Homo sapiens: one gene and its partner. The protein of the gene in region 1 interacts with the protein of each later gene in a pairwise test. Each region holds a gene or a part of one and is shown in the gene's direction. Other genes may lie near its edges.

Region 1 (4,007 bases):
ATGAAAGTTCCCGTTTTTATAAGTAAACTGTTCCTGCTCCTAATTAAGACCAACCTCTCCTCATTTTGCCCTAGATTCCATCTCCTCTTTCCTACTCGATATATTGCCCCATGTATTCTTCCCTTTTTTGCCCCTCATACCAATTTAAATCTTTTTTCATTGGATCATTCCCACCCATTTAACAAACGTTTGTTATTTTTCCCATCTTAAAAAACGAAACATTGACCGGGCATGGTGGCTCACACCTGTAATCCCAGCACTTTGGGCGGCCGAGGTGGGCGGATCACCTGAGGTCGGGAATTCAAGACTAGCCTGACCAACATGGAGAAACCCCGTCTCCACTAAAAATACAAAATTAGCCGGGCATGGTGGCGCATGCCTGTAATCCCAGCTACTCGGGAGGCTGAGGCAGGAGAATCACTTGAACCTGGGAGACGGAGGTTGTGGTGAGCCGAGATCGCACCATTGCACTCCAGCCTGAGCAACAAAGAGTGAAAAACTCCATCTCAAAAAAAAAAAAAAAAGTAACATAACTAGACATACCTTCCCAACTTCAGCTTCCAACTACCACTTCACTCCTTTGCTGCCCCTTGTAGGAGAACTCCTCAGAAACTAATCCCATATCCAATTTCTGGCAGATGGAAAATAGCTGAAATCATGCTTCTCTGAAACGTGTGTGGCTTTTGTTATTACCTTTAGAAACCGTCACAGGAACGGGGAAAAAGTGCAGCTTGCCGGCCGAGGAGGATTCTGTGTTAGAAAAACTAGGGGAAAGGAAACCATGCAACAGTCAACCTTCTGAGCTTTCTTCAGAGACCTCAGGTAAGTTAGGAAAACAAAATGAACTCTTTGAAACAAATTAGGGGCGATAGAGTAGTGATGGTAGACATTGTCTCTAGTTCCCTGTTGTATGGTGGTAATCAGCAGTATAGTTTATGAAGTCAATTCTCTTAGACAGATTTTATCTGGTTTAGACAGAATGTCAGCTTGTTATATCTTTAAAAATTACTACTACAGCAAATCAGGATACCTAATTTTTTTTTTCTCCACTGTTTTTTTTGTTGTTGTTGTCGTTGTTTTTTTTTTTTTGAGACAGAGTCTCACTCTGTCGCCCAGGCTGGCGTGCAATGGCGTGATCTTGGCTCACTGCATCCTCCACCTACTGGGTTCAAGCGATTCTCCTGCCTCAGCCTCCTGAGTAGCTGGGATTACAGGCGCCTGCCACCATGCCCGGCTAATTTTTAGTAGAGATGAGGTTTCACCATGTTGGCCAGGCTGGTCTCAAACTCCTGACCTCTGGTGATCTGCCCACCTCAGCCTCCCAAAGTGTTGGGATTACAGGCGTGAGCGACCGTGCCTGGCCTTCTCCACTGTTTTCATAGTGAAGAAAGGACACCCAAATTTTGATCTGGTTCAGCTATTCACTATTCTATCCTGTGTGGTCTTAAGCAAGTTACATAACTTGCCTATATCTCAGTTTACTTAGCTATAATATAAATTAATTGGTCAAATGTTCTCTAAAGTCTTACTAGTTACAGTGTTCCATGGCCCAACAGCATCTACATTACCTGAGAGGCTGGTAGAAATGCAGAATCTTGGGCTCTACCTTAGGCCTTTGTAATTATTATCTGCATTTTAATTAGATCCCCAGATAATTCTAATTTTCATTAAACTTTGAGAGGTACTGCTCTAAGATACTTTCCAATTTAAAGTTTGATTATTCAGTGAATTTGAAGATTACCTGTTTTTAATAACCCAGAAGCATATGTATATGATTATCAACTTGATTTTCTGTTTACTTTTCTGTGACTATGATTGGAATGTGGACATCCTGACATATGGGACATAAGGGCCCATGACTTATTTCACTTAGAATCTCTAATGCTTTGCACACTACCTAGCACAAGACTAGAGCTTAAATAAATGTGTGATTTTTTTTTTAAATGTTGTTTTACTGACTCAACAAATCAGTAAAGATTTATCAAGTGCTTATGGTATACAAAATACACCATGTTAAGGCATATAGATATTTAAGTCCCCGTCCTTGCCCCCTGAATTATTATATTATAACCTGAATGAAGAGATAAGTTCTCAGGCATGAACTCTGAAACCCAAGATTTACATAATAATTGAATAAAATAGTATAAAAGATGGCACTGAATAGCTGCTGATTAATTGCTGAATTAAATGTTATAAATACTGGGGGATACTATAGCCTAGCAATTTTTTGAGCGATGCAATAATTAACCTGAGATATTAAACAAAGGCTAGGATTTAGAGGATATTGGAGGGGTAAGGACAAGAATGAAATCCACTATTTACATATTATAATATTCTTGGAAATCAATTTATTGGGTCAGACTTGACAGGAGCTGGCATATACCTGCTCTTAATGAGACTCTTGCCAGGATCTTGGATCCATATTATATTAACTGGGAGGAAGGTTAGACCAGATCACCTGCTGAAACTCTTCCAAAGGTACTCATCTTAATTGTTAAAATTAATTATCCTACTTAACATTATATATATTTCTCTGTCTTTTGGGAAGTACATTTAGGAGCAGAATGTTGAAATTTAACATATTTGTCTTTCAAAGTAGGATGCTCTGGTTCTGGAATCATGAGAATTTTTCTCTGACCAAAATGTGGATTCAGTATATTTTGTGTGTGTGCGTGAAGTGACTTAAGTCTGGCCTTCTGATCTAGTTCCCAGAATCTGTCTGGTTTGTTTGACAAGTATTAGTTTAATATTGGTGACCTAGTCTTAGAATTATAAATTTTGTCCAAAATCATGTATATTTAACTGAAGCAATTAATAAATTTCACCAAAAAGAGGCAAGCACTAAGAATGACCAATATAAATCAGATGAGATTTACAGGCAGTAAGTGCTTATTTTTAGAGGTTAAAAGATGTGAAATGTTTCATTTTTAAAAGTTCAATCCTGCTACTTCTGAAATTTCAAATATTTTATAAATGTTTGAAAACAATCTTTACCTGAGATGATGATCTGTTAAATATTTTTGCTAGCGCCAGTTAAAAGTGAGAAATGTTTTAGAAAAGACTGTTTTCCTGAGCAAATTACAGTAAGTACTATATGTATTAGTGAAAATAGCCTCCTTAAATTAGTCATTTATATGGTCTGGTTTTTTTGTTTGTTTGTTTGTTTTTTGTTGTTTTTAAGAAACAATAACGAGGAGTTTTTTGTTTGGAATTTTAGCCAACTTCATGTATTGCGGTACCCCTCCCACACAAGCCAAACAAGTTTGCAGACCCAGTGACCGCAGGTCAACCCGGCCCAAGCCTGCCAGGGTCCCTCCTGAGCTGCTGGGAGGCTCTCCTCCATGGAAGACTCTTGATCACAGGCTGGGCCACTGCTCTTTGTCTGAGTCAGGTTGGGTCTCTGGTTCATCCTCCTGTGGTGGGCCTGGGAACCAAAGAAAAAGTATTCATGTTGACTCACTTGAACCCCAGAGGGATCTTGGCAGGGAGGCCTGGGATATAGAAAGCACACCAATAATGATGAAGAAAAAGAAGAAGAAACCAAAGCAAAAGAGATATTCTCAACCACGGGCTGGAGGACCTTCGGATGATGACAATGCAGATAAGCCTAAAGGTCATCCATTTGCAGCTGACACACAAAAATCAGGTGTTCTCCCCAGCCAGCCTACCACTATGGGTACAGAATATGGACTTGTATCTGGAGAAAACTTGAAAAGGGAATGTTTAGTTAACTCCAGTGCAGCCAGACTGGTAGCTGAGAACTTTGTCTCAGAGAGTCTCAGAATTCCTTTATATCCTTCTGAAGAAGCCCCCAAAACTGCAATAAGTTCTCAGTCTAAGCTGAGAGTAGAGGAAGAGAGCAAAAGTAACAAGTCAGTACTACAAAACCAAGACAAGAAATTGCTGAAGCAACATGAATACAAACCACAGCCTGCACCCCACCTGAAGACTCCTGTAGATAAAAGCCAGTCAGTAGGCCCTCTCAATCTGAAAGGACCCCTAGCAGA
Region 2 (4,007 bases), on another chromosome or scaffold:
CCGTCTCAAAAAAAAAAATTATATTGGATGCATATAATTCATGCTTTGATGAGAATGCTTTAGGAAGTTTTTTGAAGTTTTTTGTTTTTTTGTTTTTTTTGAGACGGAGTTTCACTCTTGTTGCCCAGGCTGGAGTGCAATGGCGCGATCTTGGCTCACCACAACCTCTGCCTCCCAGGATCAAGCAATTCTCCTGCCTCAGCCTCCCGAGTAGCTGGGATTACCAGCATGCACCACCACGCCCAGCTAATTTTGTATGTTTAGTAGTGACAGGGTTTCTCCATGTTGAGGCTGGTCTCGAACTCCTGACCTCAGGTGATCTGCCCGCCTCAGCCTCCCAAAGTGCTGGGATTACAGGCGTGAGCCACTGCACCTGGCCTTGAAGTTTTTTTTAAACTTCCATTTACAGTGAGGAAAACATTTTATGTATAACCCATGTACACATACAAATTCATGTTTATGTATTTAAAATTTATTTTGAGGCAGGGTCTTGCTCTGTCACCCAGGCTGGGGTGCAGTGGCAGGATCATGGCTCATTGCAGCCTTGGCCTCCTGGGTCAAGTGATCCTCCCACCTCCTCCCGAGTAGCTGGGACTACAGGCTCAAGCCACCATGCCTGGCTAATTATTTATTTATTTGTATTTGTATTTATTTATTTTTTGAGATGGAGTCTCACTCTGTTGCCCAGGCTGGAGTGCAGTGGTGTGATCTCGGCTCACTGCAACCTCCGCCTCCTGGGTTCAAACGATTTTCCTGCCTCAGCCTCCCAAGTAGCTGGGATTACAGGCGTGAGCCACCATGCCTGGCCTAAATTTTTTTTTTTTTTTTTAAGAGGCAGAGTCTCACTATGTTGCCTAGGCTGGTCTCAAACTCCTGGCCTCAAGGTGCTGGGATTACAGCCATGAGGTACGGTGTTCTGCCCACTTATGTGTTTAGAGCGATTCAAAAGGAAAACACTTCCAAAAAGTTATTGCTCATTAACAGGGTTATATATATATAAATGTAAAGACATTGTGTAAAGGAACTGTTGTGATTAATTCTAGGATATTATAAAAATTCAGCCTGTGGCCGAGAGCAGTGGCTCACGCCTGTAACCCCAGCTACTTGGAAGGCTGAGGCAGGACAATCAGTTGAACCTAGGAGCAGAGGTTGCAATGAGCTGCGGTCGCGCCACTGCAGTGCAGCCTGGGCGACAGGGCAAGACTCCGTCTCAAAAAAAAGAAAAAAAGAAAAAAAGAAATTCCACCTGTGTCCTTGTGTCACGTGGCACACAGCATAAGATTTTAGTCTTGCTCATACCAGACTTCCTTCAGCTGCTCTTCCATGTGGTAGCCATTAGTACGTATAACCATTTCACATGAGATGTAACTGATAGGACTGAGGAAGTGAATTTTAACTTACTTGAATTTTAATGGTTATATTGTACAGTGTAGCTGTGTAGCATAGCATTTTGTGTCACTTCATTTTCTCAAGGTTTGGAGAAAGATTTTTGATGTACATACCAAATGTCTATATAAAACCTAAGTACTGAGCAATATATTTTTTCTAACTTTATTGGGTGTACTTTACATACTGTATAACTCACCTATAGGTTTTAGTTACAATCCAGTTTTATAGTACACTTTGTTGCAAAAAGTTCTCATGCCCATTTTCAAGTTAGTCCTGCTCTAGACAACCACTGTTCAGCTTTCTTTTTGCATAATTTTTTCTAGAAGTTTCATGTAAGTGGAGTAGTATTTTAGTCTTTTGTGTTTGGCTTTTTTCACTTAGTGTAATGCTTCTGAAGCTAACCGAAGAGCTTTTTCACATTTGTTGCGTGTATGGATTTGTTTCTTTTTGAGCAGTGCACATTTTAAACTAATTATCAGTTTTATCCTGTATTTAAACAAGTTTCATAAAATATTAACTTGCTCATATTGTCTGTGGAAGTGAAACTTAAAAGTTAGCATCAAATAATTTACACAAAACATAGAGGTTGGGTGCAGTGGCTCACGCCTGTCACCCTAACACTTTGGGAGGGTGAAGCAGGAGGATTGTTTGAGCCCAGGAGTTGCAGACCAGCCTGGGCAACATGGCGGAAAAAAAATTAGCTGGGCACAGTGGTGCTTGCCTGTAGTCCCAGCTGCTGCAGGAGGCTGAGGTGGGAGGGAGGTCACGGCTGCAGTGAGCTGTGATTGAGCCTCTGCACTTTAGCCTGGACAACAGAGTGAGACCTCATCTCAAAACAAAACAAAAACCACACAAAGTCTCAAGCAATCAATTAAAAATGAAAATGAGGAGGCTGGACATGGTGGCTCACACCTGTAATCCCAGCACTTTGGAAGGCTGGGGTGGGCAGATCATGAGGTCAGGAGTTTGAAACCAGCCTGGCCAACATAGTGAAACCCCGTCTCTACTAAAAATACAAAAATTAGCCGGGCATGGTGGTGTGTGTCGCCAAATCTGTAGTCCCAGCTGAGGCAGGAGGATCGCTTGAACCAGGGAGGTGGAGGTTGCAGTGAGAAGACCGCGCCTCTGCACTCCCCAGCCTGCGTGACAGGGCGAGACACTGTCTCAAAAAAAAACAAAAAAAGTGATTAAAATTCTTAATTCCATATACCCTCACCAATATTCTGTATCAGCTGCCCAAGTATTAGATAGGATGGGCTCAATCCTAAAAGGCACAACCCCCATATTTAACATCCCTAAAATTGGGATGTCTTACAATTGATGACAGGTCAATTGGGAGTGTAAAAGAATAACATAAGCTGGGTGTGGTGGCTCACGCCTGTCATCCCAGTACTTTGGGAGGCTGAGGCAGGTAGATTGCCAGACCTCAGGAGTTCGAGACCAGCCTGGGCAACAGGGTGCAACCCCGACTTTACTAAAATACAAAAAAAAAAAAAAAAATTAGCCAGGCATGGCAGCATGTGCCTGTAATCCCAGCTACTTGGGAGGCTGAGGCAGGAGAGTTGCTTTAACCAGGGAGGTGGAGGTTGTAGTGAGCTGAGATCACGCCACTGCGGTCCAGCCTGGCCGACAGAGCGCAAGACTCCGTCTCAAAAATAAAAAAAAAAAGAATAGCATGTTAAATTTTGTGAAATAGAGTATGCACAGATATTATGCATATATTTTTATTTAAAAAACCAGCTGGATCAGGCGCCATGGTTCCTTCCTGCACTCCCAGCACTTTGAGAGGCCAAGGCAAGAGGATCACTTGAGTCCAGAAGTTAGAGATCAGCCTGGGCAACAAAGCAAGCCCCTGTCTCTACAAAAAGATTTTTAAAAGAGCTAGATGTCGCAGTGTGCACCTATAGTCCTAGCTACTTGGGAGGCCGAGGCAGAAGAATCGCTTGAGGCCAGGAGTTTGAAGCTGTAGTGACATAGGACCACACCACTCCACTCCAGCCTGGACAACAAAGCGAGACCCTGTCTCTGGAAAAACAACACAGCTAGTAAATTTAAAACTATACTTTGCTAATAAGCATTATTTATCAAGTCCATAATATAGCACATCTACACATTAAGACGCAGTTCTAGTCTGGTTATATATTATTTTCAGTAAGAGAAACACAATGTTGCAAGTTGTATAAAACTTAGATGAGTGACAAGATGATTTTAGGGGTTTGTTCTGATGTATAATTTTTTTTTTTTTTTTTTTTTTGAGACGGAGTCTTGCTGTCGCCCAGGCTGGAGTGCAGTGGCGCGATCTCAGCTCACTGCAGGCTCCGCCCCCTGGGGTTCACGCCATTCTGTTGCCTCAGCCTCCCGAGTAGCTGGAACTACAGGCGCCTTCCACCTCGCCCAGCTAATTTTTTTGTATTTTTAGTTAGAGGCGGGGTTTCACCGTGTTAGCTAGGATGGTCTCGATCTCCTGACCTCGTGATTCGCCCGCCTCAGCCTCCCAGAGTGCTGGGATTACAGGCATGAGCCACCGTGCCCAGCCTGTATAAATTTAATCACACATGGTTGAATTAGATATGTTGGTAAAAATAACCCAAACTAGAAAAACTTAGAGTCACACAAAG

The links.
Region 2: the proteins of MAP4 (region 1) and NOP58 interact in a two-hybrid assay, tested with the Homo sapiens proteins (one large-scale study listed by BioGRID).

What each region holds. Positions count from the first base shown.
Region 1 is NC_000003.12:47,911,632-47,915,638, reverse strand, and holds part of MAP4 (microtubule-associated protein 4), read left to right. Parts: intron 1-699; coding exon 700-822; intron 823-3,217; coding exon 3,218-4,007. UniProt on the Homo sapiens protein: Non-neuronal microtubule-associated protein. Promotes microtubule assembly.
Region 2 is NC_000002.12:202,268,529-202,272,535, forward strand, and holds part of NOP58 (nucleolar protein 58), read left to right. Parts: intron 1-4,007. UniProt on the Homo sapiens protein: Required for the biogenesis of box C/D snoRNAs such as U3, U8 and U14 snoRNAs. Part of the small subunit (SSU) processome, first precursor of the small eukaryotic ribosomal subunit.